Linked DNA regions of Homo sapiens: region 1 is linked to region 2. Evidence: fine-mapped expression QTL. A gene starts in region 2. The other region holds a variant in brackets. All regions are shown on one strand. Distances are from middle to middle.

Region 1 (8,000 bases), 34 kb before region 2:
AGAAAAAAATTTCATAATTCTCATAACAGACAAAAGGCTAACTTCCTTAATATACAAGTGCAGACAAATCAATTTTAAAAAGCTTAACAACACAACAGAAAATTAAGCCAAAAATGCCGGGCTTGGTGGCTCACGCCTGTAATCCCAGCACTTTTAGGAGGCCGAGGCAGGCGGATCACCAGGTCAGGAGATGGAGACCATCTTGGCTAACACGGTGAAACCCCGTCTCTACTAAAAATACAAAAAAAAACAAAATTAGCCGGGGGTGGTGGCAGGCGCCTGTAGTACCAGCTACTCGGGAGGCTGAGGCAGGAGAATGGTGTGAACCTGGGAGGCGGAGCTTGCAGTGAGCGGAGATCACGCCACTGCACTCCAGCCTGGGCGACAGAGCGAGACTCCGTCTAGAAAAAAAAAAAAAAAAAAAGAAAGAAAGAAAGAAAATTAAGCCAAAAATACAACTACTTTCAGAAATACAAACGACCAATAAACATACAAATAGTAGTGCAACATCACTAATAATTATGAAACTGCAAATCAATCCAAAGAGGATAAAGTTGTTCACCTCTCAGATTAGCAAAGGTTTGATAATACCCATGCCAGAAAACAGAAATGACGAAGAAAGCATTTCCATACATTGTTGGATGAGAGTGTAATTTGGTACAATTTGGCAATTTGGTGTATTTATCACCTTTTATAAAGCATATCTATACTTGACAGGGCAATTTTGTCTCTACAAATTCAGCTTGTGGATATACACCAAAATATGTTCAAGAGGACCACTGCAGCGTCGTTTGCAACAGGAAAAAATATATATACAACAAAATGTTCATCGGTGGAGTTGAGGAGGGCAGGAGATGAATAAATTATGCTATTTGTAGGATGAACTATTGTATTGCCAGTGAAAAGAGAATAAAGATAGCTTTTTATGTGCAAGTATGGAAAGATGTCTAACGAGTGCTATCAAATGAAAAAACAGGTTTGAGAAGAGTATTACAGTATTATCTCTATTGTGTACTTTTTAATAGTATGTACATTTGCACTTGTAATTTTTTCTAAAGATAACTGCCTTTAAAAAGCAAGCAACAGGCTGGGAGCGGTGGCTCACGCCTATAATCCCAGCACTTTGGAAGGCCGAGGTGGGCAGATCATGAGGTCAGGAGTTCAAGACCAGCCTGGCCAACAGGGTGAAATCCCCGTCTCTACTTAAAAAAAAAAAAAAAAAAAGCAAAAATTAGCGTGGCATGGTGGTGCGTTCCTGTAATCCCAGCTACTCGGGAGACTGAGGCAGGTGAATTTTTTTAACCGGGACCCAGGAGGTGGAGGTGCAGTGAGCCAAGATCGTACCACTGAACTCCAGCCTGGATTACAGACCGAGACTCCGTCTCAAAAAAAAAAAAAAGCAAGCAGCAGGCCGGGCGAAGTGGCTCATGCCTATAATCCCAGAACTCTGGGAGGCTGAGGCGGGTGGATCACCTGATTGAGGTCAGGAGTTCGAGACTAGCCTGGCCAACATGGTGAAACTCCGTCTCTACTACTACTACTAATAATAATTAGCTGGGAGTGGTGGCGCACACCTGTAATCTCAGCTTCTAGGGAGGCTGAGGCAGGAGAATTGCTTGAACCCGGGAGGCGGAGGTTGCAGTGAGCCGAGATTGCGCCATTGCATTCCAGCTTGGGCAACAAGAGCCAAAGTTCATCTCAAAAAAAAAAAAAAAAAGCAAGCAACAGTATTCTTTTAGGGGAGGAACTGGGCAGGTACTCAAAAGAAGATTTTCATTTCCTTTTATACTTTTTTAAACTGTGTGAAGTCGATGTAGTCATCCCATAATTTTTCTTCTGTATGGAAGAATATAGCGTATAGTAGAAATTATGTAGAACTTTTTAACAGAGTTAAAGCTCTGTGGAGGCCGGGCGCGGTGGCTCACGCCTGTAATCCCAGCACTTTGGAAGGCCAAGGCGGGTGGATCACTTGAGGTCAAGAGTTCCAGACCAGCCTGGCCAGAATGGTGAAACCCCATCTCTACTAAAAATACAGAAATTAGCCGGGTGTGGTGGCGGGCGCCTATAGTCCCGGCTACTCGGGTGCCTGAGGCAGGAGAATTGCTTGACCAGGCAGGCGGAGGTTGCAGTGAGCCGAGATCGCGCCACTGCACTCCAGCCTGGGCAACAGAGTGACACTCCGTCAGAAAAAAGAAAGGGGAGGGCAGGGGAGGGCAGGGGAGGGCAGGGAAGGGGAGGGGAGGGGAGGGGAGGGCAGGGAAGGGGAGGGGAGGGGAGAAGAGAAGAGAAGAGAAGAGAAGAGAACCACACACACAAGACAAGAGAAGAGAAGAGAACCACACACACAAGACACGGAGAGTCCGATGCTCAATCCTAGGCCTTGGAGGCCTGTTCCTCCCTGCCGGGAAGCGTCTCTCACCCGAGACTACAACTCCCATAAGGCATCGCGAGCATCGCGAGAACGGCGCCACAGAGGAACCGGAAACAAGCCAGTTACTTTCATACTCAGGGACACCGTCCCCCCCTCCGCCCCCCGCCCTCCGTAAGTGCTATTTTTACATCGAATGCCCTAGTCTGGAAGTAGGTAAACTGAAACTAAGCTCAAATCAAAAGGAGAAAGGCTGGAAAACAAGAGGCTACAAGCTCCAGAAGCTCCGAGCGAGGATGAAAATTAGCCAGCCCACAGGTGGGCTCTGCGCGGCCCTGAAAGTCGCACTCTGACCTGACCCTTTCCGCCTCTCGTTTTTCCTTCCAGCCTCGCTTCAAAGTTCTGTATTGCAGAATGAAATCGGCGCCTTTCCCCAGCGGTTTTTCCAAATACGAGCAAAGGAGGCACAAAACGCAGGTTCCAGAAACTGTGCCTGCAACCATTCGTCCTTATTTCCCGACACACGGGCCCCTGCTCCCCGCTAAGGCTGGGGTCCTGGACACGAGTTTTGCGCTCTGATAGAAGGGCTTAGATTCCAGATTGACACTGGGCTCTCTAAAGCCTGCTCCTCAATCTACTGATCCGGTCCAGCTTAAGATCCAGTAGAAAGAAAACATAGCCTGCCCGGACCGTAACCTTTTTGTTTCAGACCCTGCATTTGTAAAATAGCCTAATAAAATCTCTCCCTGGCTTACAGAGCAAGACAGCGTCCTGGTCCAAGAACCGGATGAGTCAAAAGGCGTTACTGTTGAGTCAGACATAGAATACATGAATACCTAGAAATTCGTAAATGATTCTCCAAAGGCTGTTGAAATAGCGTTTTCAGGCCGGGCGCGGTGGCTCACACCTGTAATCCCAGCACTTTGGGAGGCCGAGGCGGGCGGATCACCTGAGGTCAGGAGATGGAGACCATCCTGGCTAACACGGTGAAACCTCGTCTCTACTGAAAATACAAAAAATTAGCCGGGCGTGGTGGCGGGGGCCTGTAGTCCCAGCTACTCGGGAGGCTGAGGCAGGAAAATCGCTTGAACCCGGGAGGCGGAGCTTGCAGTGAGCCGGGATCGCACCACTGCCCTCCAGCCTGGGCGACAGAGCAAGACTCTGTCTCAAAAAATGAAAAAAGAAATAGCGTTTTCAAGTTATAATCAGGTGCGATGATGAATGCTATTAATGCCATTTTTAAGAATAGTAAGTGCAGGATGTTGATAGG[T/C]TATTCTGGGAGGAAGGGAGATGGGGTATGTGAACTCTGTACTTTCCCCTCAATTTTGCTGTGAAACTAAACTGCTCTAAAAGTAGTTTGTTTGTTTGTTTGTTTTTAAGTAACAATAAGAAGTATAATAGGCCGGGCACGATGGCTCACGCCTGTAATTCCAGCACTTTGGGAGGCCAAGGCATGTGGATCATTTGAGGTCAGGAGTTTCAAGACCAGCCTCACCAACATAGTGAAACCCCGTCTCCACTAAAAATACAAAGATTAGCTGGGCGTGATGGTGGGCACCTGTAATTCCAGCTACTCCGGAGACTGAGGCAGGAGAATCACTTGAACCGGAGAGGCGGAGGTTGCAGTGAGCCAAGCTCGCACCACTGCACTCCAGCCTGGGCAACAAGAGCGAAACTCTCTCAAAAAAAAAAAAATAGACGTATAATAACCACTCATCAGATAAAATTACAACAAATTTAAAGATCTTAATTGGCTTTTATTTGCAATAAATCAGATAACACCTCATTCTGTAAAATAAATTGAGTGTTCTGGGATCTGGGCAGGAGGCTGGCTTTATAAGCCAAAAAGGGGCTGAAGAAAGCAGAAAGAGATAACAAAAAGCAGATTGGTCGTTTCAAAGTTACTTTCCTTGTAAAATTAAAGCACAGCCGACTTTCTTATTATGCCAGCTGAAACTGGCCTGTGTGGGTTTCTCTCCTGATTTCTTGGAAGGTGGAATAAGCAACTTAGTTTTGTTTTGGTGACATGGTAGTTTGGCATGAGTAACTTCATTTTGGTTTTGTCTATTGGGCCTAGTGCAGGAGCTCAGTTCAAACCAATGGCCTATAAATTTTATTTAACACCATTAGTGAGCTCTTATTATGTGCTAGTGACAAAGCTGGGACTTGAACTCTGCTGTGTCTGACTCCAAAGTCCCTGGTGAAGAAAATGTTTAAAATGTTACATCAAATTATCTGGCCAGAATTGTGGCATATTAGAAAATGCTTGTAATCCCAACACTTTGGGAGGCAGGAGGATCGCATGAAGCCAGGAGTTCAAGACCAAACTGGGCAACAAAGTGCGATGTTATCTCTACTAAAAATAAAATACAATAAATTAGCCAGACATGATGGCATGTACCTGTAGTCCTAACTACTCAGGAGGATGACACAAGAGGGTCTCTTGGACCCTAGAGTTCGAGGCTGCAGTGAGCTATGATTCCACCACCAATGCACACCAGTCTGGGGGACAGAGGAAGACCCTGTCTCAAAAAAAGGAAGAAGGGGGGTGGGGAGGAAAGGAAGGAAGGAAAGGGAAATAAAGGAAAGAAAGAAATGCACTAGACGAGGTGTCAGAAGACCTGATTTAGAGTATCAGTTCTGCACTGGCTCCTTGCAGAACCATGCTTCCTTGATTTGTTAAGATTGGACAAAAACAATGATTCTCAAACTTAAAGGTCCACACAAATCACCTGGAGGTCTGGTTAAGATGCAACTTCTGCTTCAGGATGCCTGGGTGAGGTCTGAGACTCTTCTTTTCTAGCAGGCACCCAGGTGAGCTCCATGTTGATCCAAGGACCACACTTGGATTAAAAAAGGACAGGATGACCTCCAGATCCTGTTACACTCTAACACAATGAATCAGTCTTTCCCTTTAACCTTAGCTCCGTTACTATCAAGGAAATATTAAGGAAACTGTCAAAAAAGAGAGTGATTAAAGAAAATTCCTATCTGGGGCTGGGCACGGTGGCTCACGCCTGTAATCCCAGCACTTTGGGAGGCCAAGGCGGGCGGATCACGAGGTCAGGAGATCGAGACCATCCTGGCTAACATGGTGAAACCCCATCTCTACTAAACATACAAAAAATTAGCTGGGCGTGGTGGTGGGCACCTGTAGTCCCAGCTACTCGGGAGGCTGAGGCAGGAGAATGGCGTGAACCCAGGAGGCGGAGCTTGCAGTGAGCCAAGATCACACCACTGCACTCCAGCCTGGGTGACAGAGCGAGACTCCGTCTCAAAACAAAAAAAAAAAAAGAAAAAAAAGAAAATTCCTATCTGAAGCCAAAAAATAAAAAAGAACTATTTAACTTACGATAATAATGTCTCTGGAAGGATTCACAAGCAACCCATAAAGTAGTTGCCTTCAGGGGGAGGGACTAGATGGCCCTAGTACAGGCGTGAGCCATGGCGCCCGGCCCCCGTCTTATCTCTTTAATTGCAATCTAAGTTCCTTATGGGAAGAACCACTAAAATAGATTCCTTTTACACCTCCTGCAGCACTAGGCATATACCATGTTCTCAAGGAACTTTTGCTGAGCCATCAATCTCCTCATGAATATTATTCTATATTTATTTCACTTCCTTTTGGCAGACATTCATTTGGCAAGCTTGGGCTATCACAGAATCGTATGGCATTTGTGACTCTATCACTGAATCAAATGGATTCTCTGAATTTACCACAGAGGACAAGGCCTAGGGCATAGAAAGTATGTATTACAAGTTCTTGTTTTTATTCCATTAATATTTCCTATAGATTAACATCCTTGGTCTACGTGACACCTTGCTGCACATTAGAATCATTGAGGGGAGCCAAAAAAAAAACAAAAACAAAAACAAAAAAACCATGCTGACTGGGTACAGTGGCCCACGTCTGTAATCCCAGCATTTTGGGAGGCAGAGATGGGAGGATCTCTTGAGCCCAGGGGTTTGAGACCCAGCCTGAGCAACATAATGAGACCCTGTCTCTACAAAAAAATTTCTTAAAAAAATTAGCCTGGTGGCATGCATCTGTAGGCCCAGCTACTCAGGAGCAATGGGAGGATTGCTTGAGCCTAGGAGGTGAAGGCTGCAGTGAGCTGTGATTGCACCACTGCACTCCAGCCTGGGTGACACTGTGAGACTCTGTCTCAACAAAACAAAACAAAACAACCTATACCCATGCCCTGAGACTCCCTTTTAATTGGTCTGCAGGAGAGCACTGTCACTCTGGCATTGTCACGTATCTATTTAACTTCAGCAAGAGTTATGTAGCTTTGAAACGATTCCAAACATATGTGAGTGGCATATGTTTTTGCTGTGATAAGAACATGGAGTGTCCTCCTTCCAGTGAGGATGTTATAGCACACCCTATCAGACCACAGATGTAAGTTATTGGCCTCAACTTCTGGAAGTAGTTTTCTATGATCATTAAAATGTTTTTTTGAAAAATACATTCACATAGTAAAAACTCAAAATATAGAAAAGAATCCAATGTGGCCGGGCACGGTGGCTTACGCCTGCAATCCCAGCACTTTGGGAGGCCGAGGCGGGTGGATCACGAGGTCAGGAGATCGAGACCATCCTGCCTAACACAGTGAAACCCCATCTCTACTAAAAATACAAAAAATTAGCCGGGCGTGGTGGCGGGCGCCTGTAGTCCCAGCTACTCGGGAGGCTGAGGCAGGAGAATGGCGTGAACCCACGAGGCAGACCAACAGAGCGAGACTCCATCTCAAAAAAAAAAATTAGCCAGGCATAGTTGCACACATATGTAGTCCCAGCTACTCAAGAGGCTGAGGTGGGAGGATCACTTGAGCCCAAGAAGTCGAGGCTGCAGTGAGCCATGATCTCACCACTGCACTCCAGCCTGGGTAGCAGAATGAAACCCTGACTCAAAAAAAAAAAAATATATATATATATATATATATATACACACACACACACACACACACACATATATAATACATATATATACACACACACATACATAAAATATATATACACACATATATACATATATACACATATATACATATATACACATATACACATATATATACATATATACACATATATATACATATATACATATATACACATATATACATATACACACACACACACACACACACACACACACACACACACACACATATATATATATAAAGTTCTCTGGACTCACGTTCTGGCCCCTATAGACATTTGGGTTTATGAGGACCCATGATTTACACTTATTAAAATATATATTCAGTATCCAAATAGAAACAGCACATTCAAATACAGCTTGCTGCTTAAATGCATGTGGTCTACAGTCAGACAGGGATTCAGGGCCATTAGGTGGGATCCCACAGCTAGTAAGTGGTAGCTGAGCAAGCAGGGAGGAAAGGGTGGCTTTTTCCTTTCTTCTTGATCAGCTACCACTTACCAGCTGTGGGATCCCACTGAATGGTCCTGTGCCTCAGATTGCCCCTCTTCATCTGTACAGGGGGGATGAAAATAGCACATCCCTCACAGGGTTCGTTTGAGGATTGAACAAGATAGCATGAATTACTATGGTATCTGGTACCCAATAACTGCTTCATAAATATCAGCTATTATTATCCTCATCAGGGAG
Region 2 (8,000 bases):
ATTTTTATATTGTCAAATATTTTTATCATTTAAAAAATGGCTCCTGCCTTGCTAAAAAGTTCTTTCTTGATCCAAAGTTATAAATATTCTAAAATGTCATATTTTTATTTTTGTATTTTTTCATTTAGATCTTCAATCCATCTGGAATTTTTAATTTTTTATATTTTTGAGATGAAGTTTTGCTCTTGTTGCCCTGGCTGGAGTGCAATGGTGCAATCTCGGCTCACTGCAATCTCCGCCTCCCAGGTTCAAGCAATTCTCCTCCCTCAGCCTCCCAAGTAGTTGGGATTACAGGAATGTGCCACCACACCTGGCTAATTTATTTTTTAGTAGAGTCAGTAGTAGTTTGTCCATGTTGGCCAGGCTGGTCTTGAACTCCCGACTTCAGGTGATCTGCCCCCCCTCAGCCTCCCAAAGTGCTGGGATTACAGGAGTGAGCCACCGCGCCTGGCTGGAATTTATTTTCGTATATTGTGTGAAGTAGGGATTTCCATTTGTGTTTTTCAGTTTTGACAATAACATTTTATTAGTACAAAAGAGTTGATACTAACTCCCTTACTAATTGTAGTCACATGAGACTGATATCAGAGCTATTAGGCCAATTTATTTTTTTATTTATTCATTTTTTATTTATTCTTATTTTTATTTTTTTTGCGATGGAGTCTCACTCTGTCGCCCAGGCCAGAGTGCAGTGGCGCGATCCCGGCTCACTGCAAGCTCCGCCTCCTGGGTTCACGCCATTCTCCTGCCTCAACCTCCCGAGTAGCTGGGACTACAGGCGCCCGCCACCACACCCGGCTAATTTTTTGTATTTTTAGTAGACACGGGGTTTCACCGTGTTAGCCAGGATGGTCTTGATCTCCTGACCTCGTGATCCACCCGCCTCGACCTCCCAAAGTGCTGGGATTACAGGCGTCAGCCACCGTGCTTGGCAGGCCAATTTATTAACTTAGGAGAATAGAACTACTAAGTCAGCCAGAATATTAATGTTCTTTTTTTTTTTTTTTTTTTTTTGAGACAGAGTTTCACTCTTGTTGCCCAGGCTGGAGTGCAATGGCACTGTCTCAGGTCACTGCAACCTCCACCTCCTGAGTTCAAGCGATTCTCCCGTCTCAGCCTCCCGAGTAGCTGGGATTACAGGCGCATGCCACCACTCTGGGCTAATTTTTGTATTTTTAGTGGAGACGGGGTTACATCATACTGGTCAGGCTGGTCTCGAACTCCTGACATCAGGTGATCCGCCCGCCTTGGCCTCCCAAAGTGCTGGGATTTATAGGCGTGAGCCACAGCGCCTAGCCTTAATGTTAGTTCTTAACCAGTGGTAGACCAGAAGTCTAATTGGGATTTTTTGTTTTTGTGTTTGTTGTAATACAATTTCTGTTTCTCATTTATCCTACCTGAAAAGCATACTGCATCTCTGACCTCTCAGCATACTAACAATAATATTGATCACATAGCATTTCTTGTAGTTCATAAACTTCACGTGTCAATAATATACTATAAATATAAATGAATTAATGAACAACAGGATGCTCATAAGCTTACAGACATCTTTTTCTCAAAAAAGCTGGGAATTTTGTTTCTGTTTTATTGGGATACTGACTCTCAACATTTCATATATTGCATTCCACCAACGTAGCTGAGAGTCAATTTATGAAATATTTTGTAGTGTAAGACAGAAAGTGGGGAGGACCAAGTATGTCAACCACTAGGAGTGTGGTGCCTAGTCAGGAATTGGGAGGAGTGTAGCAAGAAAGGAAGGACAACAGGATTTGGTCATTGATTGGTCAGATGGATTTCAGAGGGATTGGTATGAAGGAACGCTTCAAAGATTTTTTTTTTAATTTAAGTTCCAGGATACAGGTGCAGAATGTGTAGGTTTGTTACATACTTATAGGTGAGCCATGGTGGTTTGCTGCACCAATCAACCCCTCATCTAGGTTTTATTTATATTTTTTTTTGAGACGGAGTTTCGCTCTTGCTGCCCAGGCTGGTGTGCAATGGTGCGATCTCGGCTCACCGCAACCTCTGCCTGCTGGGTTCAAGCGATTCTCCTGCCTCAGCCTTCTGAGTAGCTGGGATTACAGGCATGTGCCACCACGCCCGGCTAATTTTGTATTTTTAGTAGAGACGGGGTTTCTCCATGTTGGTCAGGCTGGTCTCGAACTTCCGACTTCAGGTGATCTGTCCGCCTCGGCCTCCCAAAGTGCTGGGATTACAGGCAGCAGCCACCGCGCCCAGCCAGGTTTTAAGTCCCGCATGCATTAGCTATTTGTCCTAATGCTCTCCCTCCCCTTGACCCCCACGCAACCAAAGATGGTTTTAAGGCTTCTAGGACTGGAGATGATTACTTTCAGAAATGAATAGTGGTGACCAGATGAAATAAGACTTTTGGATGTAGATAGGACCTTAGCGATATATTTCCAGCTTTTTATTTTTTATTTTAAGGATGAAGAAACAGCTTTAAGTTGGTTGCCTAAAGTCACGCAGGTAATTGATGCAGTATGGCCAGAACCCATACTAGGCTTAAGGGACAGTGTACCATAAACTCGTAGAGGTCCTTTAAACAGATAGAAACGCTGTGCTCCAGGCAGATGCCATAACAAACACTGGCTCTAGATCTACCATGGGTTATATGGGTCCTTAGTTAAGATTAGATATGGAGTCACAGTGTGCCAGAATTTCAGGGAGAGAGGAAAGTGGAAGGGCTTTCCACTAAGCCTTTTGAACTACTAGGTACCCCTCGTTTTACATCTGGTTATCTCATTTAAATCTATGACGTTTTAAAATACTTATTACCATTTAAGACATGAGAAAAATTAAGTTTAGAAACGGCTAGATAGCTCACGCTAGAAAGGAAGGACTCCAAATTTTAACCAAGGGCAGATGTGCATGGAGGCCAAGTCATTTCCTTCCCATGCTCTCATACTGACCCAACAAACCCATTCTGCACGTGAGAAAACTGAGGCCCGGAGGAGGGAATTCACACACGTTTGAAGCCAAGCTGGGGCCAGAAAGTAGATCGGCTGATCTCCAAACCTCCACGTCAAAGGTCTTCCCAGGAGGACATATGCCTTCAAGGATTTTACAATGTATACCACCCTACAAGTGATGGGAGAGAGGGGAAAAAAGCAACCGACTAAGGAGAAAAGCAAGGAGCAGAAAAAGGAGCAAAAGAGGAGCTGTCAGAACGGTGTGAGGAGAGTGGGAAAGGAGCCGCCTCCTTTTGCCTCTCTTCCTACTTATTAACAAAACAGAACGACTATCCAACGTATTTCAGGGAGCTAAGTCTTAGCCAGCTTCAGCTGTGTTTTAACCCTTAGCTAAATATAGACAAGGCTAAGGCAGGCCAGGTGTACACTTCAGGAAGACGTGGAAATTCCCAGGGCGGACCAAAACTTGAGCTGTTCCGGCGGTAGTGATTTGAGGTCAGTTTGAAAGAGAAGTTGAGAAAGCGGCCGAGGGGCGAATTTGGCTGCACTACACGCTCGCCACAAAGAGGAAGGGCCGCCGGCCGCCGGGGCCGAGTGCGCTTCCAGCCCAGGCGGAGCGGTAGACGCAACAGCCTCCGCCCGCCACGTGACCCGTAGTGTTGTGGTCTGGCCCGCGTGGGTGGCGGGAGCGCCGAGAGGGCGGGGGCGGCGATGGGGCGGGTCACGTGATGGGGTTTAAATCTCCCGCAGCCGGAGCCGCGGGGGCGCCAGTGCCGCGCGTCGAGCGGGAGCAGAGGAGGCGAGGGAGGAGGGCCAGAGAGGCAGTTGGAAGATGGCGGACGAGGCGGCCCTCGCCCTTCAGCCCGGCGGCTCCCCCTCGGCGGCGGGGGCCGACAGGGAGGCCGCGTCGTCCCCCGCCGGGGAGCCGCTCCGCAAGAGGCCGCGGAGAGATGGTCCCGGCCTCGAGCGGAGCCCGGGCGAGCCCGGTGGGGCGGCCCCAGAGCGTGAGGTGCCGGCGGCGGCCAGGGGCTGCCCGGGTGCGGCGGCGGCGGCGCTGTGGCGGGAGGCGGAGGCAGAGGCGGCGGCGGCAGGCGGGGAGCAAGAGGCCCAGGCGACTGCGGCGGCTGGGGAAGGAGACAATGGGCCGGGCCTGCAGGGCCCATCTCGGGAGCCACCGCTGGCCGACAACTTGTACGACGAAGACGACGACGACGAGGGCGAGGAGGAGGAAGAGGCGGCGGCGGCGGCGATTGGGTACCGAGGTGCGCAGGGTGCGGGCGGCCGGAACTGCGCATCTCCTCCTCCCTCTCCCCGGGCTCCTACTGGCCTGAGGTTGAGGGCGGCTGGGGGCTCGGGGCAGGCTCCGCGGCGTTCCCCTCCCCACCCCGGCCCTCCGTTCAGCCGCGCTCCTCCGGGGCTGCGGTTCCTACTGCGCGAGCTGCCAGTGGATTCGCTCTTTTCCTCCGTCCGTGGCCCGCCTGGGCGGCCTTGTTCTTTCCGCAGCAGCCAGGTCGGGAGACTCTCGCAGTCGCTTTAAAATAAGTTTCTCTCCCCCTCTTACTCTTTTAGCATATTGCTTTTGTTAGAGCTTTTTTTTTCTTTTTCTTTATTTTTTATTTTCATTGCTTTTCTCCTCTACCCCCCAGCACACTTAAGTCTGCAACTTTTTGGCTGTCCCGTTGGTCTGCGTTTTCAATTGCTTTTTGCAAACTTGACACCTGTGCAGTTTGCTTTTTTTGGTCTATATTTTTATGACTGAAATTACAATTTTTGAAAGAGGAAAGCTGTTTCTATAGTCACAGCTTGCAAAATTTAAAGAACGTGGCTGTTCCTGAAGACATTACCATTCTGTAATGCAGTTAGGAGTGGGTATGGGAGAGAGAGTACTTTTAGAGCTGTTCATATTACTTTTATTCTAATCTTGCTCTTGTGCGGTAATGGTGTTTGGGCTAAACATGCTTTTTTTGTATGTATGTAGTATTGAGACACAAACTTAACACTTCTAGCATAATGAAGCAGATATGTTGCAGTTGTCATGTTCTTGAAGGTTTCTTTTTTTTTTTTTTTTTTTTTTTGAGACGGAGTCTCGCTCTGTCGCTAGGCTGGAGTGCAGTGGCGCGATCTCGGCTCAGTGCAACCTCCGCCTCCCGCGTTCAACCGATTCTCCTTCAGCCTGCCGAGTAGCTGGGACTACAGACACCCGCCACCACGCCCAGCTAATTTTTGTGTTTTTAGCAGAGACGGGGTTTCACCATGTTGGCCAGGATGGTCTTGATTTCTTGACTTCGTGATCCGTCCGCCTCGGCCGCCCAAAGTGCTGGGATTACAGGCGTGAGCCACCGCGCCCGGTCAGGTTTCTTATTTTTGATCTGAGGAGTTTCTATCCTTGATAGGTGTTCATCTTTATCAATATTTGGGTCAGGCCGGGCGCGGTGGCTCTTTCGTGTAATCCTAGCACTTTGGGAGGCCAAAGCGGGAGGATCTCTTGAGCCTAGGAGTTTCAGGCCAGCCTGGGCAACATAGCGAGACCTCCTCTCTACTAAAAGTAAAAAAAGCGGGACGTGGTGTCGCACACCTTTAGTCCCAGGTACTAGAGTTCGAGGTTGCAGTGAGCTGTGATCCTGCCACTGCACTCCAGGGTGGGCAACAGAGTGAGACCCCGTCTCAAAAAAAAAAAAAAAAAAAAGTAATATGTGTTTTTAGGGACTGATTTAGTAAAGAGACCCTGATTTCAAGCAACACAGTTGAGTACTAATTTATTATTTACCTAATAATAATTGTGTTATTAATACTGTTTATTTAATAGAGGAAACAATGCAGAGGTACTTGTAGTATTGTGTAAGTTTAACGTGCGCATTGCCAAGGTTATATTTGAATGACGTTTTTATGTAAATGTCCATTTATTACACGTTTCACGAACGCTATTGTTTGTGATTGTATGATACATTCTAGCTAGATTATTATCTTTTCTTTTTTTTTTTCCTTTTCTTTTTTTTTAAAAGGTGGAGTTTCGCTCTTGTTACCCAAGCTGGAGTGCAATGGCGTGATCTCGGCTCACCGCAACCTCCGCTTCCCGGGTTCAAGCCATTCTCGTGCCTCAGCCTCCTGAGTAGTTGGGATTACAGGCATGCGCCACCATGCCCGGCTAATTTTTGTATTATTAGTAGAGACGAGATTTCTCCATGTTGGTCAGGCTGGTCTCGAATTCTCAACCTCAGGTGATCCGCCTGCCTCGGCCTCCCAAAGCTCTGGAATTAGAGGCGTGAGCCACCGCTCCCGGCTATCTTTTCTGTTTTTTAAGTAGACTTAATTTATTTTTAGATTTTGGCTGAAACTGAGTGAGCAGAATTCCTAAAGATGAAGAAACTGTTCCAATGAACAGTGCAAGCTGACCCCATAGGCATGCTTTACACACGCCGTGTAAATGTTAAATGCTGTACTCGATGAAAATGATTGCTCTATAACCGTTCATACATTTTAGGTGCATGTTGTTTTGATAGCCTTGACTGACTTGGTTTCTTTTGCAGATAACCTTCTGTTCGGTGATGAAATTATCACTAATGGTTTTCATTCCTGTGAAAGTGATGAGGAGGATAGAGCCTCACATGCAAGCTCTAGTGACTGGACTCCAAGGCCACGGATAGGTATGGCTCAGAGCTGTTAATTTTAGAGAGTAAATGTACGGTTTTTGGTTTGTTTGTTTTGAGACAGAGTTTCGCTCTTGTTGCGGAGGCTGGAGTGCAATGGCGCGATCTCGGCTCACCGTACCCTCCGCCTTCCAGGTTCAAGCGATTCTCCTGCCTCAGCCTCCCCAGCAGCTGGGATTACATGCATATGCCACTACGCCCGGCTAATTTTGAATTTTTAGTAGAGACGGGGTTTCTCCATGTTGGTCAGGCTGGTCTTGAACTCCCGACCTCAGGTGATCCGTCCGCCTGGGCCTCCCAAAGTGCTGGGATTACAGGCATGTGCCACCTTGCCCCACCTCACTTGTCCCCTTTTTGTGTAGTGTTCTTCATCCGGTTAGAATATCTTCCTCCCTCACTTCATATTCCTTGTTTTTTCACTTTATTGTACACTTACCACTTCTTGAAAAGCTCTGTATCTTACTTTTTAAATTGTGTTGTTTCCTGGTCTAGAATATAAGTTCTACGGGAGCAGGAATTTTTGACTGACTTGTATACTCCTGTCTTTTCAGTGCCTAAAAAAGTGCCTGGCACATAGTTTGTGCTCAATAAATATTTAATAAATATGTGAATGAAATGGGAAAGTATTTCGATGTAGAAAGCATTATCAGTTTTTTATACCAAAGGTATAACCATCTTGAAAGTGGATCTTTTTGTGTTCTCACTCTTACAAATGGCTTGATTATTTAAACATAGTGAAGATCAGTTTCTCTTTGGTGTCTGTAATTTATTTATTTATTTATTTTTGTTTTCTCAAGCCTAGGGAGCTGGTTTGAGCAATCTCAGGGTAAAAGAAAATGATTAGTTCTCAGAACATCAACATTGTATGTATTATCTTGGAAGATGGGTTAAGATCAAATTGAAAAATTACCGGAAAAAAATTAAGATGGCAGTTATGTATAGATTTTCATTTCTTTTTCCTGTGTGGTTTTAATGATAAGTAGTACAGGCTTTTAGGACTGGTACGATTTTTCTATGTCGTAGAACCCTTTTGTAAATACTTTTGGTATTATGGTGTGTGTTTCTAGATATTAACCATAAGAACTTAATTCTGGTTGTTAATTAATTAGACTCTTGAAATATATACTTACAGCTGAAGGGGGTCTTCCCAACTCTTCATTAGATCTTCCTAATCTCATTGGGATATAGCATTAATTCTGAGTGTACCGAGAATGAAATACCATTAAATTGCATTTTCTTACTTTGCAAAAAACCCTCACAGAATGCTAACTCATTACTTCAGAAAATAAATGAGATTTTGAATTACTTGATAAGTTGACTTTAAGCCTTTTCCCCCTTATTGTAGGTCCATATACTTTTGTTCAGCAACATCTTATGATTGGCACAGATCCTCGAACAATTCTTAAAGATTTATTGCCGG

Evidence for each region.
Region 1: its variant is fine-mapped to the expression of SIRT1 in whole blood (INTERVAL, PIP above 0.99).

What each region holds. Positions count from the first base shown.
Region 1 is chr10:67,847,024-67,855,023 of GRCh38, forward strand. No RefSeq gene overlaps it. Among named protein-coding and RNA genes, the nearest start is that of DNAJC12, 13 kb to the left of the region's middle. RefSeq lists enhancers at 2,374-2,423, 2,454-2,513 and a silencer at 6,508-6,802. The variant T/C (reference allele first, on the strand shown) is at 3,639.
Region 2 is chr10:67,880,957-67,888,956 of GRCh38, forward strand. It overlaps SIRT1 (sirtuin 1), which reads left to right and starts at 3,700. Exons shown (of 9, transcript NM_012238.5): 1 at 3,700-4,195; 2 at 6,461-6,577; 3 at 7,926-8,000. The coding sequence starts at 3,766. RefSeq lists promoters at 1,380-3,765, 2,736-3,767, 3,555-3,766, 3,593-3,768, enhancers at 3,216-3,275, 3,296-3,455 and silencers at 3,536-4,075, 3,576-3,760, 4,195-4,489, 4,286-4,405.